Regions from separate parts of the Homo sapiens genome. Here all the other regions are linked to region 1. The links come from fine-mapping of genetic effects on gene expression. A gene starts in region 1. Each other region holds a variant in brackets. All regions are shown on one strand. Distances are between the middles of the regions.

Region 1 (10,187 bases):
ACCACCCAAAACTTAAGGGATAAAACCCAACCTTGTTATGTACTCATGATTCTGTGGGTCAGCAGTTGGCAGGTCTCAGCTGGGTGGTTCTTCCACTGGTGGGACCCACATGGGATCACCCATGTGGCTGCTGTCGTGTAGTGGCTTGAGCTGGGTGTTATGAGATGACCTTACTCACATATCTGGCTGTGGGTGCTAACTCATGGTCTGACCTCCCTCTGTGTTGTTCTCATCTTGAGGAGTCTAGTCCAGGCTCCTTCATAGGATGACTTATGTTCCAAAAGGGTGAGAGCAGAAGCTGCAAAGTGTTTTGTGGCCCAAGCTCAGAAGTTCCACAGTGTCACATCTGCTGCATTTTATTGGTCAAGTATGCCACAAGTCCAGCACAGATTCAAGGAATGTGGACAGATTGCATCTCATGATGAGAGAAGCAGGCAAGTTACAGTGCAAATGGGCATGACTTCCTTGGGGAGGGGAGATTTTTGTGGGCATTTCTGAAAATAATCTATCAGGTGTCTAAGGTTTGTGAGGATATGAGGAGTCAAGAGTAGGAGAGTCACAACACACGAATGAGCCAGTCCTACCCTGTTAAGCGTCATCTTAACATCCCAATACATTCCTATCACTCTGTAGGGACGAAAGCCAGTGGTTCTGTCACTACTGGGAGGTTTAAATGGTCGAATGAATTTTCAGACTTTTTTATATTGCTCATTTATATACAGCTGTTTTGGTGATTTTGAAATAAGGTTAGTGATACCATAACAAGGGCTTTTTAATGATAATTCTGCTAAATACACAACCATAATAAATTTTGCTGTCATCTGCTTAAGTTAGAATTGTAAGTGGGCCAGGTATGGTGGCTCATGCCTGTAATCCTAGCGTTCTGGGAGGCCAAGGCAAGTGAATTACTTTAGCCCAGGGAGCCTGGGAAACACAGCAATACTCTATCTCCATAAATTTTTTTTTTAATTAGCTGGGTGTGGTGGCACAAACCTGTAGTCCCAGCTATTCAGGAGGCTGAGGTGGAAGGATTGCTTTGAGTCTGGGAGGTTGAGGTTGCAGTGAGCCGAGATCGCGCCACTGCACTCCAGCCTGGGCGATAGCGTGAGATCCCATCTCAAAAAAGAAAAAAGAATCGTAAGTGAGCTTGAATATCCTTTGTCATTTTTATTTGAGAATCTAAAGCAAATAATTGAAACCCACAAATATTCCAAATGGAAATAGTGTAACCACAAGAAGCATGGGCCGCTTTGTGAGAATTGGATCATTCCAATAATAAAAAGAGAAAGAAACATAATGGGGATGAAAACGAATGTTTCCCACACACCTACCATGTGTCAGGCATGCTGCACATATTAATTCATTCACTCCTCCCCAAAATCCTAAGTATTAAGTAATATTATCACCCATTTTATAGAAGAGAAATCTGAGGTTCAGCAAGGCAAATGACTTGTGAAAAGCTGATACCTAGGTAGACAGTTCGAAGGCTGGGATTCAACCTGAGTCTTCTGCTTGTCCTAGCTCCTTTCCAACATTTACTGAGATTGATAAATATTTTATACATATATTCAAATTATATACATTTTATCCTACTTTAAAAACCATAATTGTATCATTTTCAGCTGCAACACAACTTTATAATTATCCTTTTAAATGCTGCATAATATTTTAATATTTCTTTGATATGCTGGACCATACTTTCATTCACCATTACTCTGACTTGGACATTGAGGTTGCTTATGCTAGGGCTCAGAACCATGAACTAGATCAAATCTGGCTTAACACAATTTCTAGGGATGCTGTAATTATTTTTCTGAACCAAATGTGTGAATAACGCATCTGTGCCTTGTCAAGCTTTTTTGATTTCTGTCATTTGCCTTCAAATGGTATTTATTGACAAGATTAGACCTGTTTCGGTAATTGCAGGAGACTAAGTACATGAAATTAGGCACACATTTACATGCCTAATATTTCTACTCATTGCACCAAAACACCTTCTGCTCATTTTAAGGGTGGTTTCTTGCTCAGAACAAACCTGTTTACATCGTAAGGCAGCATTTTCAGATTCACCAGGAAGGATGAGGTTCCAATGTCACAGAACAGAGCTGGGAGACATTGGCATGCAGGTCTCATCTCTAGCCAGCAGATGTCTCTATTTCATTCACCCTTCATTGCAGGCTCCTCCTGAATGGGAAGACTTGGGAGCAAAATCTATGAGTGGGAGGTTGTCCCATCCTTTTGTCACCTCCCACAAGCCTGCAATTGCCCCTCCTCCACCCCCTCCCCTAGCTTCCTGATTCGTGGCATAAAGGTAATTGAAACAGGAGTGCCATTTGAGTTTAAATACATTCTTTACTTTACCAAATCTGTTTGCAAAGTGGGAACGGTAACTGAAAGCAATCTTTACAGAGCCAAAGCTTTTTCTCTTTAAATAGCACCATACTCCGTACTAAAAGCTGTATTACTGAGTCATAACAATTAATTACGTTTGGAGGTGAGAAGACAGGATTTAACGCTCTAATGCGATTTGAATTTAGGCCGTTAACTCATTCCACTGCTATTTAAAACAAAATCACTTTTCCACGGAAGCATCTGCAAGCAAGGATGGTTTCAGAGCTTAAGTCTGAAGACATCCCTGGCAACTGAATATTCCTGTTTTAGCTTCCTGGGGGGGTTGGGGGGTGGGGTTTATATGCATGTCTGGATTTTCTAGATTTTTGTAATGAATTGCATTTCTTTCTACTTTGGGATTTGATAAAAGAGAACTGGGGGCTGGGAAGGTCATAAGGAATTTTGTAGGTGTGGAGGTGTGCAGGAGGAGTTACCGGAAAAGCAAACAGAGACCATATCACCAAGCATGTGAGGCACATGTCTGTGCGGGCTGACAGGCAAACACCTCATGAAAAGAGATTTATTAATAAGTTCAGAACAAGTAGCAGGAACTGGAGAAGGAGCTGAGAAGGTTCAGGTGGTTATCAGGCAGGAGTGGGAGGGTCCTGTGGATATCCAGGGAGACAGAGACAAGCTCTTCAGAGGCAGCTCTGTGGCTTTGCCAGAGGCTCCTAGAGGCACTGAGGGTCCTGGGCTTGCCAAGGCTGGTGGCACCAACATAGCAACCGCAGGGTCCAGAAGGATCTGCCTGGAATCCTGGATCTGAATCGCCATTGTAACTCCCCACAGTGTGACTCTGTGAACCCTGTGCTCCCCAAGCCTTGGGAGATAGGGGCTTCTGTCCCACGGAGAGTTGCTGCGAGGGTCCGATGAGCTGAGGGTTAGATTCTGGAGTGGTTCCATATCTGGAAATCATTGTAGTCATGCAGAACAAGGAAAATGGACAGATCCTCCTTCCAGACATGGAGTGTGGATTTTGACATTGCATGAGTAGCTCACGGCCCAAGCTGTGCAGCTGTCTCAGTATGAAATGCCTCTCTTTCACACCCCTCTGCTCTCAGGACCCTGCCTTGTAGGAGCCTAGGGCTCCCCACAAACATTGTGTTCTCTCTGCTCCTCTCTTTGGTCATTCTATGTCCTGAGTTCTTCCCACCATGTTCTCCTCTCCCACTCTTCATCAGCTCGAGAATCAGCTTAGTATCCCTGACTTGCCAAGTGCCTTTAACCCCCAGCCCTAGACGGATGCTCTTTCCACTGGGTTTCCATGGTCAGTTAGAGGCGCAGGGCCACATCTCCTGCCCTGAAGTCATCTGACTGTGCACTCTCTAAGCCACTCACTGGCTGTGTGACCTGGACAAGTGACCTAAACCTTATAAGCCTCATTTGTTTGATCCACATGGTGAAAATATTAATAGTTATTTTGCCGAGTTGTCAAGAGAATGGGAAGGGCTGGCCTGTTTAGGACAGGAAGTCATCTCATGGTGGCCGGCACTAGCCGGGGAGCCTCCAGGCCTGCGAGCCCAGAGCGGCTTTCCCTTGGGTTCTGAGAGCCTCCTGCTGCACCTGGCAGATCTCAGGATGAGTTAGTGATTCGGGAGTCTGCATGGCCCTCCTCACCCCTGTATAGGTTAGGAGTCGAGTCCTCTCCCCATCATGAAGCATGGCCTCTTCGTGGCCAATCCCTCTCATCTCTCAGGTCTTACTCCAGGCATTCCCCAGGGCCCTTGTCTAAGAAGCTCTCCTCTCCCCTTCTTCCCACATCTGCCCTGTTTTATCACCACCCGATATAGCACCGGCTTGTTGATGTGTTTGCTCAGTCACGACTCTCTCTCCAAAGCAGAAGGTAAGCTCCAGAGAGAAGGAACATTCTCTTGTCTTCTATTCTGCGTCGCTGCATCCTCAGAACCCAGCATAGGGGCTGGAGCCTAATAGATGCTCAGTTAACTGGAGTGGGAAGAATGAATGGAAGTGTCTCCCTAGCACAGCGCCAGGCACAGCACAGGCACTTCAGAGATGCCTGTTATATGGAAACCCGGGACCCCCGGGGCTACGGTTTCCTTATTTTAGGAATTTCCCCCACCCCCGCCACCCCCGACATCCCCGCTGCCCCCACCACCCCCGGCTCCAGGCCCTTCCCCCCTCAGCCAGTCTGTCCCTTTTCCCAGACCCCAACCCAATGGGGGCTTCCTGCAGGGAAGGGCCGGCTGTTCTAGCCTCCCCATTCACCCCTCACTAGGATTTAGAGTCGGCCGCGCTGCACTCCCGCCCCGCGCGGCCCCTGGGCGCCCGCCCCGGGCATGCTCAGAGCGCGCAGGTCCGGGCGGCGGCGGCGGGGGAGGAGGGAGCGGCCGCCCCCGCCGCCGCCGCGCGCTCGCCGGGCCCGGGCGGAGCTGCGCAGTCCTCTCGCAGCTGCGCCAGGACAGCCGGCGCGCGGCCGTGCCCACAAGTTGCCGGCAGCTGAGCGCCGCGCCTCCTCCTGCTCGCAGCCCCCTACGCCCACCCGGCGGCGGTGGCCAGCGCCAGGACGCACATCCCGCGGACACCGACCCCAGATGTAAAGCGGGACCCCAGCCCCTCGCCCCCCGGCGCGATCGACAGTCTCGCCAGCGTCTCCTCTGCCAAAACCCAGGGCTGGAAGATGTGGCAGCCGGCCACGGAGCGCCTGCAGGTAAGGGGCACCCGGGAGCCGGGGGCCAGCCTGGAGGAGGAGGTGCCCGGGCAGAGGAACCTAGTTTTTGCTTCTGCCTACTTTAGGGGATTTGCCCAAAACCATCTTGTAAGACGCATCGATGGCAACATGATGCTGTCGGTTTACCCAGCGCCAGGAACCCGGCAGGGGTATGGGGATGATGAAATTGATAAACGCACGGGTTCAGGCGTTACAACTTTTGGCTTGGAGGTGCTTGTGTGCGTGTTGGTTGGTACATATAAGGTTGGACTTTCTGACTGGCAATTTAGATTGCATTCCACTGACACAATGCAGTGGTCTGGGGTTAGGATTTTTGAAGCCAGATTTTTTTTTTTTTTTTTTTTTTTTTGTGGTCACCAGGAAAGACAGAACAAGTGATATGTGAAAGCATCCATTTGCCAATATAATGTGGAAATATCAAGCTTGGTTTGGCTTGGTCATGGTATGCTACTTATTTTATTTTTCCCTATTCATTGGTTCTCTCCCTTTATCTTCCTTAAACCCAAGCTCCTTCAGATATTTAAGAATCAAAAGTAGGTTCAGCCAGGAATATTTATGTCCTGGGTTATCCCATCAAAAGTTTTTTACTGCTGTCTCCTGAAATGCCAGACTGCCTTGAATTGGATTCTGGAAGCTGGGGATTTGCGGGAGGCGATTGAAGAGAAAGAGGGACCTTTCCCAGAAGAACTCCTTCAGTGACACGTTGGGCCTTGGGATTGCCCTGGTTGCAAGGTTTGAGGACTGCCTTTTGCTGGCAAATATTGTCAAGAGTCACGGCAGCTACTCTGCCAGATAAAATCCACTGAATCCTGCAGTTAAACTTTTGGCAAGCTAGGAGCCACATTGTTTCGTAGTAAACTTTGAAGACGTGTTTAACTGGTAAAATACAGCACCATTGGAGGCTGAGTGCATCTGAAGACTTAGGACAATGAGGCCAGGCCCTGGCTAGGTTGGAGGCTTCTCAATGAACATTTACAGCCCCAAGCACAGTTTCTCAGATGCAGGGAGAGGCTAACCTTTGTCTAGGAGTCCTCATACAGAGGAACAACCCGCAGAGGGCATTGCATTTAGCAGAAACAGATGCCCCACAGCTCCTTTCCAAAGCTCCCTGGGCCATGATTTGCGGGGAGTGTGTTCAATTTATCAGAGCCTGAGACACCAGACCAGTTCCCCAGGGTCTCAAGTAGAATAAACAAGAAAACCTGCATTTAGCCTTGCAGATGAGGAGGTGGATGACCAACCTCCTAACCCCCTCCTTGTCTTACTAAGAGAATATCAGCACTGGGCTCTGAATGACTGATAGAAGGTGATGTAAATATATTTTGGCAGTGGCACCAGATACCAGTGGCGCATTTGAAGTTCTCCTTCGGTTAAAGGCGTAACTTCTATTCCAAAGGAGCAGAATGATTGAGGGGAGCTGGCAGGTTTCCTGTTCAAGTGCAGAGGGTAGCTTTTGGAAGTCCTTAGAGAGATGTGACCAAAATTCCTTGAGGTGGCTTTTATGGCCTGATGATCTGTACCTCTGAAGAGTTTGTAGATTTTTGACTATTCAAGTTCTTCCTACCGGCCTGTTTCACTTAGGGAATCCTGTGCGCTCTGGAGCATGTGACCCTTGGCAGGTGGGCGCTCTCGCTTGCCTTCCCATAGAGATTGCTCCTCACTAGAAATGTCTCCCCCTTATTTTGTGAAATGTGCACGTGTGCATTTTGGCGTGAGCCTGGTTTATTGCAGTTGGTGTTTGCAATGCGTTTATTTTATTTCAAGGTGTCATGTTGAAAGAACCTGTTTTTAGGCTTTTGAAAGCTCATATAAACAGGGCTTATCACCAATAAGACCGAGTCACTGTTGGAAGGTCCTTACCAACAGGGGGCTCAACTTCATGCTGCCCAAATTTCGATGAGTCTCTTTTGAAAGTACATACATCTCAAGCCTTGAGATTAGAGAAGTGAGACAAATGCGGAAAAATTTTTTTATATCCGTGGCTTCTTCCCAAAGAGTATTGCTTGACTCTCCTTGAAAACACATAATTTATATGTTTTTACTTTTGCCTCTGAGAGAGCTGTTGAGGATGAGATGGTGAGTGAGCTGCTTATCATATTTTATTTACATTCCTTGTGGTTATCTTTGTCACAATCTCTGTTTGCTGTCTGGGGTTTTTTCCTTTTCTTTTCCTTTCACCGTGATATAGAAACATGCCTGTCCGATTCCTCAGTGAGAAGCCACTTTGCCACTCCCAGGCTCTGTGGCCACAGAGATAGCAGTGGATATCATGCTGGATAGGAAACTTGAGAATGAGTTCTGCTCTTTAATGATGTCTGAGCTCCATGTGCCTTTCACAAATCTTTATAAACCTTCTCATTCGACCTCATTAATTTTTTTCTCATTTATCTTTAATACAAACATTCTAATTTAGATGAGCCAGAGTGAAGAAAATTCGTCAAGGAAACATTCCCAGAACTTCCTAATAGGACTAAGGAGTCAATTTATTTTATCAATACCTAGAATCAAAAGAGGGGATGGAAGAAAATAACCAGACCCTTTCTTGATGATATAGTTCATATTCGATGAAGCTGGTTTGAGAAGTCTGTGTCCCAGGGGAGTGTGATAGATCTTTGCGTAGAACAGTCACCCTCTAAATAATGGACTTTTGAGTGTAGCAACTGGCTCCGTTGCTCAGGAAATGGCATCTTTGATCAGGTTTGATTATCATTATTGTTACCCACACTTCTGTGTCCCCACAAAATGATGCTGATATTTTCTGATTTGAGGTTTAGCTGTTTGACCCAAATCCAGCACAGGCAAAGGGACCTATTGCCCTGAGCAGAGCTGCGCTGGGTAATTTCTCATTCAGTCACACAAACCGAGGCAAGTTCATCTGCTCCCTTGAATGTTAAAACTTCTATTGCATCCCACTCGAGCCCTCGCTGGGAGCTTCTGCCATTAAAAATATAATAGGATCAAAAGGGATGTGAAGATTTAATTTACCACCCCAACTTTTTACAGTGAATAAATATGAATTCTTCTCTTTTCACCTTCCCGTCTGCACAGCAGACTTTTTTTTTTTCTTGGAGGTATTGAGGAGTGTTATACATTTTTAAAGAAGCAGATTTGAAACAGACTCCTTTCAGAAAAGTAAAGGAGACTTTTCTGAACAAATAAAAACCCTACTGGTTTTTATGAAATAGAGATGAGATTACCTCTGGCCTTGAAATTTTAAAATTTGTATGAGTTTCTGGATTGACTTGATGATTGTACTGGGTGGATCCCTCAGAAGTAACAAACCCATCCATGCAAGACTGTGTCCCATCCATAGGAACAAGTATTTTCTCAGAGCAAATGTCTTCACTGAGCTACCAGATGCATTTTCTGGAGGCCTTGATAGGAGGAGAAAGATGAATCAAGACTGACTTAGAAACGAAGGAGGTCAACACATCCTTAAAGGTCTTTGGTGTAGTTATTACTAGGATAGAGTGGAATGTGATAGGCGTATGAGTTCTAGCAGATTCTAATTGTGAAGTTTACATGTAACCATCTTCTCATGAGGCATTCTATAAAGGTTCCAATATAATCATCTAGCTGTCTTCACTGAGATTACCATTTCTCCATGGCAGATTCAGAAAAAACAGCTTTTTATTCACAAAGCTGGATTTGAGTTTTGCAGCCTGGGCAATTTTTTCTGTTCCATCCATTACTTCCTTTTTCATCCTCGTTGTGGCCAATGTCTGTGTACTAGCACTTCCACAAGAGGGAGAAACACAGTGAAGAGTAGGGAGGACCCCAGATCCTGAAAAAGCTTTCTTTTGGTTTCTTCTGAAACTTTTGGTTGATGAAGTGGTTGAAGTTTCCAGCTAAATACTATTTGGGGATTTTAGGAGCCAAAGTCCTCCTCTGAGGATTATCTCACCCTTTCTCTGCCTTGTCCTATCTGGTAGATGTTGTCTTGACTTGGAGTGTGGATCGTTCTAGATTTTTCTTCTCTATGATGATGCCACTTTCACTTTTCCCCTGAGAAGTGAGACTGGAGAACCCTCTAAAACGTCAACTGGAGACCATTAGCCCTGGCCCATCAGGCAGGGTGAAAACCGGCAAATCTGATACTTTTCCAGGCTGACCAAATTGACAAAAGGAGCAAGGATTAAGAATGGGAAGATACTAGTAACCTGCTTTTGTGGTGCAGGCACTGTGTGTGGCACTGTGCCGAGGAGCTTTATTTTAACTATCTGGCTCATTTGCATCCTGTAACCACTTTTATCCGCATTTTAGAGAGAAACTGAAGGCCAGAGAGTCGAAGTGATTTGGCCAGCGTTGAGCAGCTAGAAATGAACTGAGCTGGAGTTTGAACCAGACAGTTTGGTTCCAATCCTTACTTCTTAAGCACTTCACCATAGTGCAGAAGGATAAGACAGGCACAGTGCAATGTACATGTTGGTGCTGTTGTTATTAATAAATACAGTTAGAGCAATGACTGTTTTGTGGGCTCAGAGAGGCTGCTGTCCTATTTCTTGCTGAAGCAGTGGGTTGACCAAAGGCTACTCTGTTTTTGGTGGCTCAAATCTTTGGTGGCACATAAGCTGCTGTCTCCTATTGAAGTTAAAATTCACAAGTGCCATTGAAGAGCTTTTCAGCTGAAGCACATAGCATTTATCCAAACTAGAGACCTTGAAAGCCGGTGATTAGGGTGGATTGTGTACACATTCATTCCAAGTTTAGACAAAAAAAAAATGGGGAGAAGGAGGGAGGAGGTTGGAGATTTTCAGAGCGGTTGCTTAGAAAAAAGCAACAGCTATTATTACAGAGGCACAGGTTTCTCACTAAACCCATTCTAGATTTTGTTGTTGTTTTCATCAATTGTAGTTGAGTAAGCACAAAACATCGGGCCCTATTGTTCATAAAGAAAACTAGGAGTTGTCATTAATCCGGGGCCTTAGTCTCCCTCAGGAATAAAATGCTATCTTACATCATTGAGTCTTTCTCCAAGTTTGTCAGCAAATCTCTTTCAAGCGATTTGCAAAATCCTAGCCTGGGAACAAACTCTGTGCCCCTTGCTTAACCATGGCCTAATGGCTGTTTCGTGTTGACTGTACTGAGTTATCTTGGAGTGTTAGGC
Region 2 (10,187 bases), 140 kb before region 1:
AAATGGCAACATATTTGAAAAGTGCTCTGTTAATAATGCAAATATGAGCTTAACCTACTTTTATGATAGGCACAAGAAACAAAGCAGTTCAACATATTAGCATGTTCTAATGGGACTTTCTGAGTTTGAGAGTTGGTTGTGAGCTGGAAAGGCTAGGGAAAAGCTAGTAGTTCTAATTCCTACTTGGATAAGGGCTTATTTTTTCTGCTTATCTGAATTCAGAACGAACACAGTCAGTGTGACTTTTGAAAACACTCACATGTTTTTCATTGTTTGGACAGGGCTGGACAAAAATGGCCTGGTTTCACTGCAAATTGGCAGTAACACATGTTTTCAAAAGTTGAAAACAGCATAACCCTCATGAATGAATCTCAAAGAATGTTGTCTTCTTGTCCTTTAGAATAAACACCTGTTTTGCAAATAGGAGGGTAAAATCCACTTTATCAAGAAATTGTGGGTTTATTTTCTCTTCACTCACATGATTATTTCTTTAGTAATTTAAACATTTAGGTACAATTTAAAATATTATAATTTATATAATCATATCTTTAAACAAGCAATAACAACAAAAATACCCTCACATTTCATCAATAATTTCAGTTAAGCATTTTGAGCTAATTTTCTTTTCTGACTTGAAAAGGAAATACAGATATACTTTTCTAATGTGGCTCTCACACTTTTTGTTTTCTTTTGTTTTTTTTTTGAGATGGAGTTTTGCTCTTGTCGCCCAGGCTGGAGTGCAGTGGTACAATCTTGGCTCACTGCAACCTCTGCCTCCCAGGTTCAAGTGATTCTCCTGCCTCAGCCTACTGAGTAGCTGGGATTACAGGCGCCCGCCACCACGCCTGGCTAATTTTTTGTATTTTTAGTAGAGACAGAGTTTCACCATGTTGGCCAGGCTGGTCTCGAACTCCTGAGCTCAAGTGATCAACCTGCCTCGGTATCCCAAAGTGCTGGGATTACCAGCACTTTGTGGTGGCATGAGCCACCACACCGAGCCAGGTTCTCACTCTTGAAGGGAGCTGTTTGCTCCTCCCCTGCCGTAAATCCTGCTCATTCACTATCTCTGATGGCCACAGCAGACACACTCAGTGACTGGATCACCCTAACACCAGCACTGTTGGATGCACTATGATGAAAATGTCAGTGGATAAATGGAATCACTTCTTTTATACTTGGGATCATGAAAAAGTGTGATAAGAACAGGCGCTTTCTTCATAGCCTTCCCCCAAATCCACCTTTCAACTTTACCCCAAGAGATCTAGCTCCTGAAATCCCATCTGTTTATACCATACTTTCTAATGAATACCCCCAACTGCCTTCCTTGCAGGCTGGTCCCGCGTGGGTTGTAAATGGGATGCATTTGACAGTGGGCCTTTCTCTCTGTCCCTCAGGTTACCATGGCCTCTACTGTGAGGAGGAATATAATGAGTGCCTCTCCGCTCCATGCCTGAATGCAGCCACCTGCAGGGACCTCGTTAATGGCTATGAGTGTGTGTGCCTGGCAGAATACAAAGGTGAGAGGCCGCCTGGCCTTCCTGTGCCAGAATGGCTCTAAATGACGTCATGTATTTCTCAGTGTAAATGCATAAACCTCTAATTGGACCATGAATTGTTCAGAATAACAATCAAATGCTGAAGCTGGCATGATTAATCGGTCCAAGGAGACCAATTTGCAAGTCTCTGGTTTCTTCCTGATAGATTGAGAAACAACCCCCTTTCCTGTCCTGTTCTTTGTGGATCCTCGCTTTCTTTTTTATTGAATGTGTAAAAAGCTGAAAACAAAAAGTAATATTAAGATGGACTGTCAGACATAGGTTAGAGACCATGGCTGTGAAAACTGTGGAAGAGGAAGGATGCCGTCCTATAAAGCTTCTTATGCAGAGATAGAATGCTGTGCTTTCTTGGGGAGGAGGCAGGCGGAGTCCCATGTATCAGCAAGTAAGTTAATGCTTATTAAAAACAGGCGACATTGACAGAGTGTTTCCAATGTGTGGACCCCGTTCTAACCCCTAATGTGCATAGCTCACTAAATCCCCCCGAGAACCCTATGAGGTGGACAGTAATGCTCTTCCCCTATAAGCCTGGTCAGCGTGGTTCCTAAAGCCCTTTCCCAGCATCTTCACTGGCCTCTGGCCACGTTTTGTGGATGGCAAGGCTTCCTGGAGCCCAGATATCCTCAGACGGCCCTGTTCCAGGAGAACCTATTTATCAGCTGTTGCACACATTTCTCTAAGCCATAACTACGGGGCCGGGTTTAGATTTTGGAATGCGTTTGTGGGCTCTATTTATAGCCATTTCATTCAACCGCTTGCTCCTATTGCTGCTTGCTTGATGCCATCCACCTGGCTGGAGACCTTGCATTGCCCTCACCGTTGCTTCTCTTTGGATGAACCTACCTTTATTTAGTAACCTTTTTGGCAAGTCTCATGGCCTTGTAGGCTACACTGAAAACTTGATTAAGCTCCTGGATAAGAGGGCTGAAGCTGGGCCAGGTCTTGACTTTGTGTTCCACAGATCTGATGCTTCTGTTGGAGTATGACGTTCGGTTAGAACCAAACTCCACTAACATCTACCAGGACACAACAGCAGATGTGCTGGCTTCATTCTCAGGCTTCTCAGTTCTGAGTCTATCTATCTATTACCTTTCTCTCTACATATCTTCAACCTCCTTCTTTCCCCTTGCTCCTTTCCATGTGTATAAATATTTTCATGGATTTCTTACTCTGAACAAATGAAGATTCTAGGAAGATGGCAGCTCACATTGACATTCAATATCTCTGATCCCTCCTGACTCTCTGCTAGGGATGGCTCAATAAGGTAGATGACCCTGAATGGGGTCATCTGAAGATTTGGGGTCTCAAGAAAGGGTATGTGTGCTGGGAGCCTTTGCTTAACCACAAGAACAGGGGATGAGGGCTCCAGAGAGAACTGATGACTCAATGAACAGATTAGTCCAAAAAAATCCTTCAGCTTATAGAGAGGAAGTGCATGCTGTAATTGTGCTGCGTCTGACCCTAGGAGGCAGAGGGGTGTACTGATCTCATGGCTACGGGCTGCTGTCTAAGGAAATTGCACAGTAGGCTGAGCTGGCCCCCCCATTTTTTGTGGCCTTGAGAACACCAAACTGGGAGGCCTCTCTCTGCCTCATGCCTTAGTACACAGGGCCCCATTGGCTGCCCATCCATCCCTGAAGGGGAATGTGTTATGTTGTCTGTCTCTGCCAAGATTTCCACCCACTAGCCTGGCCAGTACACTAGCCCACGCCAGCAACTCAGAGAGGGAGAAAAGTTTTGGGAAATAAAAACAAAAATTGCAACAACAGCTCTAAACACTCAAGAAAGGAAGTGAAGAAAGTAATGTACACTACTCAAAATTGAATTTGGATCTGAATAAAAAGGAGGAACTAGTGCATGAGAGAATCAAAATATGAGGAAGTGGAAACCACGAGTGAAAAGACAGGAAACATGGAGAAAAGATTTGAGAGATCTGCTTCTGCCTGAGCGATGGGTGCTCCAGAAGAAGGAGCATGTGGAAATAGAAGCAGAATTAACTAACTCCTAGAAGGAGGTGTCTGTGAGGTGAAGAAAGTCTTATTTTCAAATAGAATGGGCTCACAGGGCAGTAATGGGATTAATGAAGGAGATGATACACAATTTGAGATTTCCTGGTAAAATTTGTAACTGCAAGGATAAAGAGAATTTTTTACAAGATTCTTCGAAGGGATCACAGGTTACATACAGAAGAAAGAGAATCAAATCGGCATTGTACTGCCCCTCTCTATCATGAGGTAAAGAATAGCAGAGCAGCGTTTCAGACTTTTAAATGAAAAGGACTAGGAGTTTGTTGTTTATATTTGAGGGCAAAAGAAAGACATTGCCATACATTCAAGGATACAGAAAATATAGCACCCTATACCCTAAGATAAGTACCTTAATAAGCATCGCCACCAAATAGGAACTAAATCAAAACAAAGATATCCAGATAGGGGAAGATGGAGAATGGAAGGAAGAGATGTATGCCTTTAAATGCAGGCATAAATCTAAATATTTGATATTTATGTGATTGTGAATGGTAATATAATGGTGAAGGAAAGTCTCTTGAAAAAAGTAGATCCGCCTTCTGTATCAGCTATCTATTGCTGCATAACAAATCAGTACCCGGTACTGGCTTAAACAACATGCTTTTATTACCTAACAGTTTCCTAGGTCCAGGTGTGGCTTAGTCAATTCCCAGCTCAGGGGCTCACAAGGGTGAAAGCCAGGTATTGACTGACTGAGCTCTCATCTGAGGCTTGAATAGTGAGAAATCAGCTTCCAAGTCCCCTTAGGTTATTGGCAGAACTTATATCCTCGTGGCTGTAGGATTTGTGACAGCTTGCTCTTTGAAAGCTAGCAACTATGACAGAGACCCCACTGCTTCCAGTCTTGAACTTCCGGGAAGGCCTGGACTTTTTTTTTTTGTGATGGAGTTTCACTCTCATTGCCCAGGCTGGAGTGCAATGGTGTGATCTCGGCTCACACCAACCTCCACCTCCTGGGTTCAAGCGATTCTCCTGCCTCAGCCTCCTGAGTAGCTGGGATTACAGGCATTCACCACCATGCCCAGCTGATTTTGGATTTTTAGTAGAGACAAAGTTTCTCCATGTTGGTCAGGCTGGTCTTGAACTCCCGACCTCAGGTGATCCACCTGTCTTGGCCTCCCGAAGTGCTGGGATTGCAGACATGAGCCACTGCACCCAGCCTGGACCCTCTTAAAGGTCTCACCTGGTTAGGCCAGGCCCACCTGGGAGGAACTCAAAGTCAACTGATTAGGGACCTTAATTGCATCTTCAAAATGTCTTAACTGCCATTTGCTCTTGGTTGGAAGCTCACACTCAAAGGGAGGGAATTACACAAGGGTGTGACTCCCTAGGGGTCACTCTAGGCTGTGTCCACCACTCTTGCTCTTAAGGAAAAATTTCAACAAGTAAAGTGGTTTCATATTATTTAAAACAAAGCCATGTGTTGAAGGGGGTGAGGATAGGAAAGACTGAAAGGCATACAAGTGTGTTAAACATTTCACTCCTGGCTTGGTGTGGTGGCTCGCACCTGTAATCCCAACACTTTGGGAAGCTGCAGTGGGCAGATCACCTGAAGTCAGGAGTTCAAGACCAGACAGTGAAATCCCGTCTCTACTAAAAATACGAAAATTAGCCAGGTGTGGTGGCGGGTGCCTGTAATCTCAGCTACTCAGGAGGCTGAGGCACGGGAACTGCTTGAACCTGGGAGGTAGACGTTGCAGTGAGCTGAGATCACACCACTGCACTCCAGCCTGGGTGACAAATCCAATGGGCAGATAAAGTGTTTATTTAATTTTAGTATATTTATAAAGACTTTTAGGTTTAGGTTTAAATAAGGCTGCTGAAAACAGGGAGGTAAACCCTAGTAATGTAGCAGTAAATGGTAGAACTTCTAAACTAAGAGTGGTGGGGACATGGGGAGGGTAGGTAGAAGGAATTAAAGGAGAGACAGGAGGATCTAATCATGCTCTTCCACCCAGAGGAAGAGTGAGGGGAAGTGAGAGGCCACATGATCCTGTGCTTTTCTCTCCGTGGGGGGATGGACATTTTCCCCCTTTTGGAAATATTTTTGCCAATAT[A/G]TATTTACATATCGTATGTCTGTATACATTCAGGAAACTGTCAGATGGATGGGTTTAAATTCCTAACTAGTACTTACCTGGAGTTAGAACTTAGATAGGTAGTATTTTAGGGATAAAGTTAAGCTTTAACTTTTTACTTTATATATATACTTTTTAAGTGGTAATTTTTACTGCTTAATATTGATATTTTTTAAACTATATATATAGTTTTTATATTTTTAGGAGGATATATATAATATAACTATATATAACACTATATATATAACACCCTCTCTATGTATATATATTTATCCTCCTAAAAAGAATGAGTGCAATAGGGAGTCAGCCAAATATATAGCTAAGAACATTTTGAAAAAGGAAAAAAGGCCGGGGGCGGTGGCTCACACCTGTAATCCTAGCACTTTGGGAGGCTGAGGCCGGCAGATAATGAGGTCAGGAGTTCGAGACCAGCCTGGCTAACATGGTGAAACCCCATCTCTACTAAAAATACAAAAATTAGCCAGGCGCTGTGGCACATGCCTGTAGTCCCAGCTACTCAGGGGGCTGAGGCAGGAGAATCACTTGAACCCGGGAGGCGGAGATTGCAGTGAGCTGAGATCGTGCCATTGCATTCCAGCCTGGGTGACAGAGCGAGACTCCGTCAAAAAAAAAAAAAAAAAAAAAGAAGAAGAAAAAGAAAAAGAAAAGCAATGAGGGGGAACTTCTGCCAGATGTTGAAAAACCCACTATAATGCTGCAATTATTGTTACATTCATATATTACCCTAGCAAGAATGGACAGATAACCAAAACTGAAGAATGGCCCAGAAACCATTGTCTATAATAATAATGTAAGACTCTTAGAGAGGAATTGCTAGGAATGAGAAGGGAATTCTTTTCAAATAAGCCCTTCTAGAAAAACTGGGCTGCTAAAGAAAAAAAAAGTTCTTAGACTTCTAAGTAAATTCCATATAAATAATAATTTTAAAAACCTCTTCTTTGACTTTTTGTGTCCCTGCTGTGCTTAAAGTCCCTTTCTTCCCTTTTGCTTTTTCAACCATGGCTCTTGGCCCTTGTCCACATCATTCCACTAAAAGAGGTTTCAGGAAAATTCATGGTGAAGTAATTGAAGTCATTTGGTGAAATCTATGAAGCCTCCCCTTCCACTTCTGACTCAGCCAGCGTTCCTGTCCCTTTGCCCCACTGAGCCCTGGGGTCCCTCTTGCACGTCGCCTTGCTGTGTCTTCTGCAACTTCATTCCTGACGGGGTTCTCCTCTCTGCCCTCACTAAGTCTTGGTCTCCCAGATGCCATGAATGACGTGGGTCTCCAGGCCCCTTTCTCTCTCCCTCCTCTTTGCTTTCATCCACTCCTATGGCTGTATCCACTGTCTGAAATGTTGACCCCCAAAGAGATGTGGCTTCTTCCTCCTTTAACTCTCTATTTTCTTTCTATTTGCCATGACAATTATGTTTAGCCTTGTATTAAATTCTTTTTGGTTTCAGACTTTCTTCTTCCCTATACTAAATCATAAGCTCTGGAAAGACAGTGACTACATAGGCTCTTTTTCTTTTTAAATTCTCTACAGCTCTTACTATGGTGGCTCGCACAGAACAAATGCTCAATGGCTACCTTTACTTGAGTTAGAACTACTGTTTAACACATGAATTAAGTAAAGGAAACCAACTTAAACATTTTCATGGAATGTAAGTCTTCACTGTAGATTATGGAATTGTTAGAAAGCAAAATTCATGGAGGACCTCTGTGTAACCCGTCTTCAGACAAACCAAAATACTGCTGTGTCCTTCAAAACTAGTTCAAGCCTGGTTTGTGACGGAACGTCTAAGACTTTGTTAAGTGTTCATACCTCATATTGTCAAAAGGTTAAGGAACAGCCCCATAGTGATTGATTTTTATTTCTAGAAGATCCAATGAAATGATCAACAATATATATATTTGAAATTTTTGGTGATACAATTTAGAAAAAAAATTCGATTTTTAATTTTGAAAATAATATAACAATAATAAATATTTAGAAGAAAAGAGAAAATTCATAATTACTCATGTTTTTACAACATAACATGAGCCATAATAATCTGTGTTGCTTCCATTCTGATTTTAGTATCCATGTTTTTACTGTTCAATAATTGAGTATACCTACAATTTTATATTGTTCTGCTCACTCATAATAGGATATTATGTTTGATTTATGTATTGCTAGGAAGTCTTACTAGTTTTATTTTAAATGGCTTTGTAATGTTCCCATGAGAGAATACTTATCCATTGCTTTGTTGTTACATGTGATGTGGGGCTATTACAAATATTTCTGGAATTAATATCTTTACATTGTTTTCCTACTTTCCAGATTTCTTTCTAGGGATAGAGTCTCAGAAATGAGATCACTGGATTATAGATTTAATTACATTGTACATTGTACCTACTTTTTTTTTTGAAACAGAGTCTTGCTCTGTCACCCAGGCTGGAGTGCAATGGCGCTATCTTGGCTCACTGCAACTTCTGTCTCCCTGGTTCAAGCAATCCTCCTGTCTCGGCCTCCTGAGTAGCTGGGATTACAGGTGTGTGCCACCATGCCCGGCTAATTTTTGTATTTTTAGTAGAGACGGGGTTTCACCATGTTGGCCAGGCTGGTCTCGAACTCCTGACCTCAAGTGATCTGCCCGCGTTGGCCTCCCAAAGTGCTGGGATTACCGGCGTGAGCTACTCTGCCTGGCCTGTACCTACTTATTTATTTTTAAAGGCTACAGAAATTTTAATGGGAAGGAAGAGAACTCCTTCTTTGTTGGATAAAGTTATTGCCTTTGCTAGATTCCACTTAGCCAGGGAACAAGAATTTCTGGTTATTTTGTGCACCTAGTCCTTTCAAGTACTGTGATAAATACAAAAAGGATAAGTCAGAGTTTCTTCCTTCTTTGGGCTGTTATTTAACCAGACGAGCAGACTGAGTGACACACACAGGAATAATGAGGCTAAGGCTGAGATGTCAATTGTAATTTCTGAGATGGTTTAGAAAATGTTGAGATCTATAAAGATTGAAATACTGGAAAAAGTTTTCATAGAGGAAGTAAGTTTGGATGAAATGAGACGATGTCTTAAAGTAAATATTAAGTGTAATAACACTTCTTTACTGGCTTCGTTTCTTGGAGATAAAATATTGATTTTCATTTTTCAAATATTAATTGTAACTAAATTTGTTACAACAACAAAGACTTATAATTGGTGTACTGCTTTTTGAATTCTAGCTTATTTCAATTCTAAAATTAACTTCTGTAAAGAATGCTGTTGGAATCAAAGTCTTTTTAGAAACATTTCTTCTCCATCCCTTAATACGAAAAGTATGAATTTTTATTAGTTTTGACTGAATTACAGTTTATTTTTGCTTGAGACTAAACATCAGCTTTGTAATAGTACGTGCTGTGTCTTCTGCCAATGGGTGATGCATGTGTCATTCCACAGACTTAGTTTGAAGTGTGGACCTGGTTTTCTCTGACAAAATAGGGTGTTTTTGAGGCAGATTTGGAATTTGGAATCTCTCCTCTGGCAGCCTCACCTGTGTGTCAGCCAAAGTACACTGGCTGTCGCCCCTCTTGAAAGGATAGGATTCCGGTGTTAGGTCCATAATTTCTTCCACGCATTATGATACGGCCTCTGCTCTACAGGACTTCAGAGATTTGTGGGAGAATCAGACAGGAGAGCAGATAAGTTATGATTTGGCACAGTGAACTCCGTGACAATGACAGTCCCGGCATGCTCTCAAGGCACAGTGGTGGAAGAATGTGGTCTGTGTTGAGAAAATCAAGGTTCAGCTTTGCAGAGAGAGGGTGTTTGGATTGGGAATTGAGAGATTAGTTAAATATGCGAAGATCAGGTTGGGGGAAGGGTGTGAAAGAAGGTGACTCCTCAGAGGAAACAGGATGCCCAAGACTTGATGTTTTCTGGGAATGGGAGTGGTGAGGAGGGCAGGAAGAGGGGGCCTAGGGACCTCCAGAGGAGGAGGGTTTGAGTGGATACAACTTGGCACATCAGTAGTGTCCATGATTGTCTATTCTCCGTGTTTAAAGTTTTTAGCTCAGAGTTGTTCAGTTCTAATGACAAGCTGAGCAATATGACAAATATATTTTATATAGGGATTAGCAAGGTTTACGATATAGAAATGTGAGTCACCAAAGTGCTCTCCAGGGACTTTTAACACCATCTTGCTTGTCCGTAATCAGGTTTCTGTGAAGATTAGCTTTTGTCCAGTCTTGCTGCCAGAGAACTCTCAATAGATGCTCAAGGGACCAAATGTCTCACCATTTGAAAAAGAAAATTAACAAGGGAAAAAAGTATTGTCTCCCCGCCCTCCAAAAAAGAGCCATCTATCCAAACAAAAACCCCAAACACCCAAAAGATTGAAATTGCTTATTATCTTGGGTGTTTTCATCAAGTCTTATTTTGTTGAAGACTTTAAATAAAAGGTAAGATGCTTAAATATTTGGCCTAGAATTTGCTTTTCAGTCTGGTTTTTAAAATGTGGTAGTTTGGGTGCTAATATGTTAGTGATGTTAATGTA
Region 3 (10,187 bases), 36 kb before region 1:
GAATTGTCCTTTCCACATTTCTTTCCACTTTCTTTTTTACTTTCTGCTTCTTGAAGTTCATCTTTTCCTCCCTCTGCCTCTCAGAACCCGAAACAGTGTTGAGAATGAGGTAAGATATAGCAGGGATGGTATGGCTAAGGAGTAATGAGAAGAAGGTATATCTCCCTTCTTCCCTGGGCTCAAAAGTTCTGATAAGAAGAAAAAAAAAACATAACATACTTCTTAGTGTGGCTTTATGAATCTGTGTCATATTTTATAGTCAGTACAGGTGTTATTTTGCCTTTTTATTGAAAATGTTACTAACTTTGAGGACTGTTTCCCTTTTAGCCCGTTATCCACTGTTCAGTTGAAATTCTGCTTTCTTTATTCAACATCTATTTATTGAGTCTTTGGTCTATAAATGTGTAGTCACTGATGACCACTGTGGTGAAGGCAGGGCAGCCACACTTCATGGCCCCATCAACACATGTGTCAGGAAGAGATTTGAGTACAGCATCCCATCGATCTGTGATGGCTTAAGCGGTAGGAGAAAAGACCCAAGAACTTTTATGGCTGTGACCTGTTGACTTCTGGCCAACCCTTCTTTATTTATCTGATAGTGCAGTCAACCAAGACTCCATGTGTTGATTGTTCTGGGTGTATAGGCTTACCGTGCAAAAGACCCTGGCCTAGCTCAATTTCATTCCCACTATTAGTTTGTAATGCAACCTCCATACTATGCTTTACCCAGTGACCTCTAACCCTAGTCAGTGTGATTGGTGAACTCTATGCTGGGTCCTGGAGGAGCCAGAACCACAGAAAAATTAGAAGGGAAGGCAGGCTGGGCATGATGGCTCACACCTGTAATCTCAGCACTTTGGGAGACCAAGGTGGATGGATCACCTGAGGTTAGGAGTTCAAGACCAGCCTGGCCAACAAGGTGAAACCTCATCTCTACTAAAAATACAAATATTAGCTGGGCATGGTGGCACATTCCTGTAATCCCAGCTACTTGGGAGGCTGAGGCAGAAGAATCACTTGAACCCAGGAGGCGGAAGATGGTGCCACTGCATGACAGAGAGAGACTCTGTCTCAAAAAAAAAAAAAAAAAAAAAAAAAAAAAAAAAAAAAAAAAGAAAAGAAAAGAAAGCAAGGCAGATAATCTGATCTGACTGCATGTATGAATAATCGGTTATTTCTCTTTTTGGTGGGGGAAGAAAGCCAATTGTCTAGTCACTTCCCCAATTGGCATTCACAATTCTGCTGCTTTCATAATCCTTGGGGTAAATGTAAAAAATATTTTTAAGTTCTGCAAATTTTATTGCTTGATGGAATTCCTTTCTTTTTTCCCCTCCCCCTGTAACAAAGACTTTAGCAAAACCCTTCTCTACAGGGCTGGGTACCACAGACAAGTATCTATGTAAGAAAAATCACAAAAATTAAGTGTAATTTCTATGGCTTAAAGACTCACCTGGGGTCTTTTCCATGCACATATTTGTTTGCTGGATTTGCTACGCTTCCTCTTGCCCTCATCAAGTTGATCAAGAATCACCTTGTTTAATCTTCTGATTTCATTGCTATATACTTAAAACAGTCATTGATCAGAGGTTCTCAAAGCATCAATTTATTGAAATTAATTTTAGTAAAGGCACATTTAGCAGAAGAATCAAATAGAGGCACTTGTGTGCTATGATGCTGCAATGAAGATGAAAAATCTGTACCAATAACAATAACTCTATAAACTTTCAAAAGTTTATGTTGACATAAGAAGAAGAAATGGCTTGATATTTGTCATATCAAGTCAATAATATAAAATTTCTAGGAGGATTTGTTAGTGAAAGAGCAATTTCAGCATTTAACCATAACGCACAAACTTTATATATCTGAGGAAAGACATGTTGAAGTATCACAGCAACAACAACAACAACAACAAAAAACCACACACACACACACACACACACACACACACACCACACAGACACACACACATACACACACACACACACACACACACAGAAAAGTGGATCCTTGTTTTTCCAATAGTTAACGGGTAAAATCTCATGAAAAGATGTCTTAGGTATGTTTGATTCAGCCCTTCCCACCATCACACTTAAGGATCACATACGCTGTGTGCATATGTGTACAGAGGCAAACAGTAGTGAGAATTATCTGAATTTGGTTTAAGCTGATGAATGTTGAAGGGCCAGAGGGCTCACTTACTCATGCCACCTTGTCCCTATTTCTGCTCTACCTTCTAGGAAGCCCTTTCTGACTTAACAGAAAAGTAACAAAGTCCAAGTGACATATAAACCATCACCATCACACTCATTTGTCAATATGTGATTTTTTGTGTCTGTGTACATTTGTTTGTAGAATTTAGAAGTTTGTCACAAAACTATCCTATATGTGACATTTAATCTGGGTGCTTTCTTTCTCTATCAATGTAATTTGGAGGCACTGCCCAAAGTTTAAACATCAGTCAGAATTCCAGTTTCCTGGCCGGGCGCGATGGCTCAATCCTGTAATCCCAACACTTTGGGAGGCCGAGGCAGGCAGATCACCTGAGGTTAGGAGTTGGAGACCAGCCTGGACAACATGGCAAAACCCTGTCTCCACTAAAAATACAAATATTAGCCGGGCACGGTGGCACATGCCTATAATCCCAGCTACTCAGGAGGCTGGAGCAGGAGAACCGCTTGAACCCAGGAGGTGGAGGTTGCAGTGAGCTGAGCCTGGGTGACAGAGTGAGATGCTTTCTCAAAAAAAAAAAAAAAAAAAAAAAAAAAAGATTTCCACTTTCCTATGTGTGAGTATTTACTAATATAATGAATCTACAGATACACCTTTTAAAATAGCAAGTCAAAGTTAAATATATAGAAAGTAACTTCCAAAGTTGATGTTTTACACCCTTTACAAAAATTTTATAAGTAAATAGATAATATAGGCTCTTTGTTTCATTTCCGATGATTAATATTGTCTTCTTTATTCCCTTAATCTTAACATGTCTTGGGTGAATTATAATCCAAGCCAGGCCAGATGGCCTTGAAAGTTTCTCCCCCGTGTCTGTTTGGATTTCCATCTTGTAGGGCGTCATTTCTGATTATCTACTCTATTTATTTTGCTGAGTCAGAGAATGTATATTTTTGAATTCTTTCATCTTTTTTTTTTTTTTTTTGAGACGGAGTCTCTCTCTGTTGCGAGGCTGGAGTGTAGTGGCGCATCTTGGCTCACTGCAAGCTCCGCCTCCTGGCTTCACACCATTCTCCTTCCTCAGCCTCCCGAGTAGCTGGGACTACAGGCACCCACCACCACGCCCGGCTAATTTTTTGTATTTTTTTTTTTTTGAAGTAGAGAAGGGGTTTCACCATGTTAGCCAGGATGGTCTCGATCTCCTGACCTCGTGATCCGCCCACCTTGGCCTCCCAAAGTGCTGGGATTACAGGCATGAGCCACCACGCCCAGCCGAATTCTTTCATCTTTTATTAGGATGATTAAAATTTTGCTTCTTTGTTTTCTGTGTTTCTTAGCACAGGTATTTTAGGCATTGAATTAGGTCTGATTCTAGAGGGTAAAATCTAGGGGGAAATGGGGTCACAGTGACTAAAAATAACTATGAAGCCAAGTTACATACAATCCTCAAGAGCCACCCTGAAGAGCCATTGACAGCTATTAAAAATTAGATGGTTGTTATTTTGCTTAAGCTACTTTATCCAAATGGGAACCAATTCAAACACCTTTTCTTTCTGCCTTTCAGATGTTCAAAATAAAGATTGTAAAGCTTAAATACAATGCTTTTAAAGAATATATTTTGGCCAGGTGCGGTGTCTCACGCCTGTAATCCCAGCACTTTGGGAGGCCGAAGTAGGCGGATCACAAGGTCAGGAGATCGAGACCATCCTGGCTAACACGGTGAAACCCCGTCTCTGCTAAAAAAATACAAAAAATTAGCCGGGCGTGGTGGCAGGCGCCTGTAGTCCCAGCTACTCGGGAGGCTGAGGCAGGAGAATGGCGTGAACCCTGGAGGCGGAGCTTGCAGTTGAGCCAAGATCGAGCCACTGCATTCCAGCCTGGGCAGCAGAGCAAGACTCTGTCTCAAAAAAAAAAAAAAAAAAAAAAAAAAAAAAAAAGAATATGTTTTAGTGTGCTTAGCCCAAGACAGAGAAGAATTTACCTATGCAGAGCTCTAAGTTCACTGAAAAAATTGGTTTTTATTTGACTTGATTTCTATAATGAATAAAGATTCTCTGGACTTCAGGAGAAACCAACTCGTTGGTCAGTGATAGATCACAAGAGCCACAGAATTTCTCATATTTCTCATGTGAACCATTTACCTGTTTAGTATAATCAGATACCACATTAATGTTTCCAGCAAGGAGATGACTTAGGAAATTCATGAATTATGCAATTATGTAAACTTCAAACATAGTAAACTAATTTTGGCTAAGGGATTCGGACCTGATTGATCCATGAATGATAGTTCAGACTATTTCTTCTTCATTTCTTCTTTTTCTTGTTTTTTTTTTTTTTTTTTTTGTTGTTGTTGTTGTTGGTTGTTTTTGGTAGGAGTGAGTGGGGGAGAAGGGGTAAAAGTCTGTTTAGAGTTCAGGCTTCTTGATTTTAGTCTATGACATTGAATTCTTTTAACATTTTGTATGGTGTATGGGTTGAATTTTGTCCTTTTCAATATTCACATAATGAAGTTTAACTTCCGGTCGCCCAGAATGGGACCTTATTTGGAAATAGGGTCATTGCAGATATAATTATTTAAGATGAGTTCATATGGGAGTAGGATAAGCCCCTAATTCTAATGTCATTATAAAATGGGAAAATGTGGACACAGACATGTACACAGGAGGAATGCCTTCTAAGAGACACAGGAAGAAAATGCCCATCCAGAAATCAAGGAATGCCTAAGCCTTCTAGAATCTTGGAGGCAGGCCTGGAACAGATCCTTTCCTATCATTGTCAGGGAAAGTATGGACTGCTGATACCTTGATTTGGGGCTTCTGGCCTCTAGAGCTGTGAGGAAATAGATTTCTGTTGTTCTAAGCCAACCAGTTTGTGGCATTTTGCTAAGGAAGCTACA[A/G]GAAATGAATACAGCTAGTAACAATCAAAATAGGAGGAATTACATTAGGATTCAATTCACTTTCATAGGAAAATTGTGACATTCATTCATTTTATAATTTTTCCTTGCTACCTGTTATGGACTTAATTGCATGCTTCCAAATTCGTGTTTGAGTTCTTAATGCCCTGTACCTCAAACTGTGACTGAATTTGGAAATAAAGCCTTTAAAGGGTAATTGAGTTAAAAGTAGGCTGATAGGGTGGGTCCTAATCCAATCTGGTGTCTATGTAAGAAAATTAGGTCAGGAATTCCTCATATATTTTGAGTATTAACTTTTTACCAGATATATGGCTTGGAAATACTTTTTCCCATTCTGAAGGCTGCTTTTTAATTTTGTTGATTATTTCTATTGCTATGCAGAGGCCTTTTAGTTTGATGTACTCCCACTTCTCTGTTTTTGCTTTTATTGCCTGTGTTTTTGGTGTCATATTCAAGAAGTCATTGCCAAGGACACATCCAGAAGCTTTTTCTCTATGTTGTCTTCTAGGAGTCTTATAGTTTCAGGTCTTATGTTTAAGTCTTTAATCCACTTTGAGTTAAATTTTGTGAGTAGTGTAAGAGAGGGGTCCAGTTTTTTTCTTTTGTGTGTAAATACCTAGTTTTCCCATTGAAGAGACCACACTTTCCCATTGTGTATTCTTAGAACCCTTGTCAAAGATCAGTTGATCATATATGCATGGGTTTATTTCTGGATTCTCTATTCTGTTCCATTGGTCTATATGTCTTTTTAATGTCAGTACCATACTATTTTAATCCCTGTAGCTCTAAAATCTATTTTGAAACCAGCAAGTGTATGCCTTCAGCTTTGTGCTTGTTTGAAATTGCTCTGGCTATTTTGGGTTTTTCGTGGTTCCATATAAATTTTAGGATAATGTTATTTTATTTCTGTACAAAATGCCATTGGGATTTTGATAGAAATTGCATTACATCTGTAGACTGCTTTGGGTAAGTACATTTCAACAATTTGAATTCTTCCAATCCATGAACATGGATGTATTCCCATGTACATATTTGTGTCTACTTTACTTAATTTCATCAATGTTTTATATTTTTCAGTATGCAAGTCTTGCACATCCTTAGTTAAGTTTGTTCCCAAGTATTTTATTTTTTGGATGCTATTGTAAATGGAATTTAAAACATATTTTCTTTTCAGATAATTCATTGTTAGTGTATAGAAATGCAACTGAGTTTTGTATATTGACTTTGTATCCTGCAAATTTTCTGAATTTATGTATGGCTTCTAACAACTTTTTTGTAGAGTTGTTAGGGTTTTCTAGATATAAGATCATGTGGTCTGCAAACAGAGATAATTACTTCTTCCTTTTCAATTTGAATGCCTTTTATGTATTTTTCTTGCCTAATTGGCCCTGAAAGTCCTAACTGACTAGGACTTCTAGAACCATGTTGAAGAGAAGTGGCAAATGTAGGTCTCTTTATCTTTTTCCTGATCTTAAAGGAAAAGCTTTCACTTTTTCACTATTGGGTAATGTTAGTTATGAGCTCTTCATATATGACCTTTATTGTGTTGAGCTAGATTCCTTCTATATCTAATTTGTTGAGTATTTTTAAAAGGGAGTTAAATTTGGTCGAATGATTTTTATGCATCTACTGAGATAATAATGTAATTTTTATCCTTCATTCTATTATGTCGTATACCACATTCATTGATTTGCATATGTTGAATCATCCTTGCATCCCAGGGATAAATCCCACTGGATCATGGCATATAATTTGTATTAAATATGCTGTTGAATTCAGTTTTAAGGTTTTCTTTAGGATTTTTTTATCCCTGTTTATTGGGGATCTTGGCCTGTGGTTTTCTTTTCCTGTGGTATTTTTGGCTTTGGTATCAGGGTGATGCTGGCCTCATAGAAAAAGTTTGGAAGTGTTCCTTCTTCTATTTTTGGAAGAGTTTTGGGATGATTCGTATTAATTCTTCCTTAAATGTTTGGTAGAATTCACCTGTAAAACCATCTGGTCCTGGGCTTTGCTTTGTTGGAAGGTTTTTTTTTTTTTAAATTACTGATTTGATCTCCTTATTTGTTGTTGATGAGGGTCTGGAGAAAAGGGAATCTGTGTACACTGTAGTGAGAAGGTAAATTGGTGCAGCTACTGTGAGTCTTCCTCAAAAACTAAAAATAGAACTACCGTATGATCTGTTGATCCCACTTCTGGATATATATCTAAAAGAATTGAAATTAGGATCTTGAAGAGATATCTGTCCTCCCATGTGCATTGCAGCATGAATCACAATAGCTAAGACACGGGAGCAACCTAAATGTTCATCAAGAGATGAACGGATAAAGAAAATGTGGTACATTCACAATGGAATATTTTTTAGCCTTAAAACAGAGGGAAATCCTGCCACTTGAGACAACATAGATTAATCTGAAGGATGTTATGCTCAGTGAAGCAAGCCAGACACAGGAGGACAAATATTATATGATACCACTAATATGATGAATCCAAAATAGTCAAATTCATAGAAGCAGGGAATGGAATGATAGCTTCCAGGGGCTGGAGTTGGGGGAGATACAGTCTAGGGGTACAGAACTTCAATTACACAAGACAAATATGTTCTAAAGATCTATTGTACAGCAATATACCTATAGTTAATCATACTGTATTGTATACTTAAAAATTTGCTAAGGGGGTAGATCTTATGTTAAGTGTTCTTATCACACATAAAATAATGATAATAATAAATAAGAGGTAGTGGTACAATCTCAGCTCACTGCAATCTCTGCCTCCCAGGTTCAAGTGATTTTCCTGCCTCGGCCTCCCAAGTAGCTGGGATTACAGACGCCCACCACCACGCCTGGCTAATTTTTGTATTTTTAGTAGAGACGGGGTTTCTCCCTATAGGCCAGGCTGATCTTCAACTCCTGACCTCACGTGATCGGCCCGCCTCAGCCTCCCAAAGTGCTGGGATTACAGAACTAGATCATTCTCAAAAATAAATAAATAAATAAATAAGAGGTAGGAGGAAACTTTTGGAGATGATGGATAGGTTTATGGATACATTGTGGTGTTGGGTTCATAAGATAAACGTATACTTAGCTCCAAATTTATCAAGTTGTATATTAATTATTTACAGCTTTTTGTATGCCAAAAATTAATTTTAAAAATTTATGATGTTATGATAAGCAAGTCAAAAATAATAGGTAGAGAAATAGAGAAATAATGTAATAATATATCGGTTCAACACATAATAATAAATATTAACACTGAAAATTAAAAAACATTAACATTGTTTTAAAAAGAGGAGATTAGATCATACAGAGAGATACCAGAGATGCATACACACAGAGGAAAGTCTGTGTGAGGTCAGAATGAGAAGGTGGCTATCCATTAAGCCAAGGAGAGAGGCCTCGGGAGAAACCAAATTTGCTGACACCTTGATCTTGGGCTTCCAAACTGTGAGAAAATATTTCTGTTGTTTTAGCCACACAGCCTGTGGCATTTTGCTAAGACTTTCCCAGCAGTTTAATATCCTACCTATATCAGCTGTTGATTGGTCTTATCCATTAATTAAAATGTGTTGAGTTATGGCCAGCATATGACGCATTTGGACCATACTTAGAATGAAGTAAAAATTTTGGACTTGGAAACTTATTTCTTCTAGTCAATCTATGCAAGAGTCATGGCGGCAATTAAGTTATCTATTTTCAGTGAAACTAACCTCCAATTCCACCTTCATCCTTTTCATCTGATGAAGAGACAAAATTCCTTGTATAGAGTAATGTTAGTTGTTTGTAGCACTAGCATTTTTGGTTTACGGAGCGTTTACTGTCTGCACACCTGTAATCCGTCAGCTTTCTTCTTAGCACTTTAATGAGCATGAGGGTCCGCTGTTTGGAATTTCCTCGTCCACAGTGGCTGATGAGTACAGTCCTAGGCCATTGCTGCAGGGACAGTCTGTGGTGTGGGGGCATGAACAGGCCACATGGGAAAACATCTTACATCCATGGACATCAGTGCCTTACATGATTGCCTCAGCCCTTTGTCTCCACAGTCTTAAGCCAGAGTTGTTCACATGCTGGGTTAGAGTTCACCTGTATTCCAAAGAAACTAAACATTCATTTTTGATCTCTAATTTTTCTTGTGATTTAGCACGTGCCTACAGGACAAGGAAACCCCAGTAAATTTCTCCACAGTTGTAGAACATTTGTAGGTTTGGTGATATCAGTCAACATCCCCAACTCTTAGGCATCTAGCACAGGTGACCCTATCCTTCTGACACTGCTCCACTTTCTCTTCTACCAGCTGCACATTCATCCTAACGTTTAACTGCCTGCTGTAGTCTATCAATATAGTCCAGCATAAGTAAGAGTAAAAGATCTCCCAAGTGTTTCACAAAACACTTAAATCCCGTACATCAGTTAGAGCACCCTGATGCAAGTAACTGAAGTGTACTCTGGTTAAGCTAAGCACAAACAAATTATAGGAAAGCTGTGGGAAGGTCACAATATTAAACAAATAAAAAAAAATAAAGCAACATGGAACAAAGCAATATCGATGACTAAAGAACCAGACGAAGAAAGAAGAGAAAACAAGTGACTCTGAAGAGTCTCGGTAGTAGAACTATATGAGTACTGTCAGGCTTTGCTGCTGGAATTCATCAGCTTCAACAAGCTTTCTTGTCTCCATCACTCTCATCCGATTCTACTTCTAGGAAAGGGTTGGGCTTCTGACCTATATTGGGTCACCTGCCTGCTCCTTGTCTAGAGAGCACAAGGCACCTTGGGTAACTGTTCCATCCAACTGTATTCAATGAGGTGGAGCCCATTCCGCAAAAGAAAATCAGAATGTAATTTTCCAAAAAAGGTAGAGAAGAAAATTGGCAACCCAAAGGCAACAAATGGAAACATGAGCGTCTTTATTATGGCAGAGTTATATGTGAGCATACCATGTTAGTTTGTGCACAGTTTAGTTAGTGCCCATCCCCTAGAGTGTCCCAGTCAGTGCTCCTTTCCAGACGGCAGCTGGTCCATGCGCACTGTCCTATGGACAGGAAGTGTTCCTTCTGCTGTGCTCTCTCAACAATCAGTTAGCTGGTCTCAGAGACCACTCTGGATGCTCC

What was found. PIP is the estimated chance that this variant, and not a neighbour inherited with it, causes the effect. A credible set is the group of variants that fine-mapping cannot tell apart.
Region 2: its variant is the best candidate, but not a certain one, in a credible set for the expression of PID1 in whole blood (TOPMed, PIP 0.56).
Region 3: its variant is the best candidate, but not a certain one, in a credible set for the expression of PID1 in whole blood (INTERVAL, PIP 0.60).

The regions. Positions count from the first base shown.
Region 1 is chr2:229,265,886-229,276,072 of GRCh38, reverse strand. It overlaps PID1 (phosphotyrosine interaction domain containing 1), which reads left to right and starts at 4,786. Exons shown (of 3, transcript NM_001100818.2): 1 at 4,786-5,059. The coding sequence starts at 5,030.
Region 2 is chr2:229,409,438-229,419,624 of GRCh38, reverse strand. It overlaps DNER (delta/notch like EGF repeat containing), which reads left to right. Exons shown (of 13, transcript NM_139072.4): 9 at 1,395-1,517. LOC107985994 (a long non-coding RNA gene) reads left to right here and starts at 8,375. Exons shown (of 3, transcript XR_001739917.2): 1 at 8,375-9,414; 2 at 9,850-10,092. RefSeq lists a silencer at 6,091-6,309. The variant A/G (reference allele first, on the strand shown) is at 5,641.
Region 3 is chr2:229,301,641-229,311,827 of GRCh38, reverse strand. No RefSeq gene overlaps it. Among named protein-coding and RNA genes, the nearest start is that of PID1, 35 kb to the right of the region's middle. The variant A/G (reference allele first, on the strand shown) is at 5,066.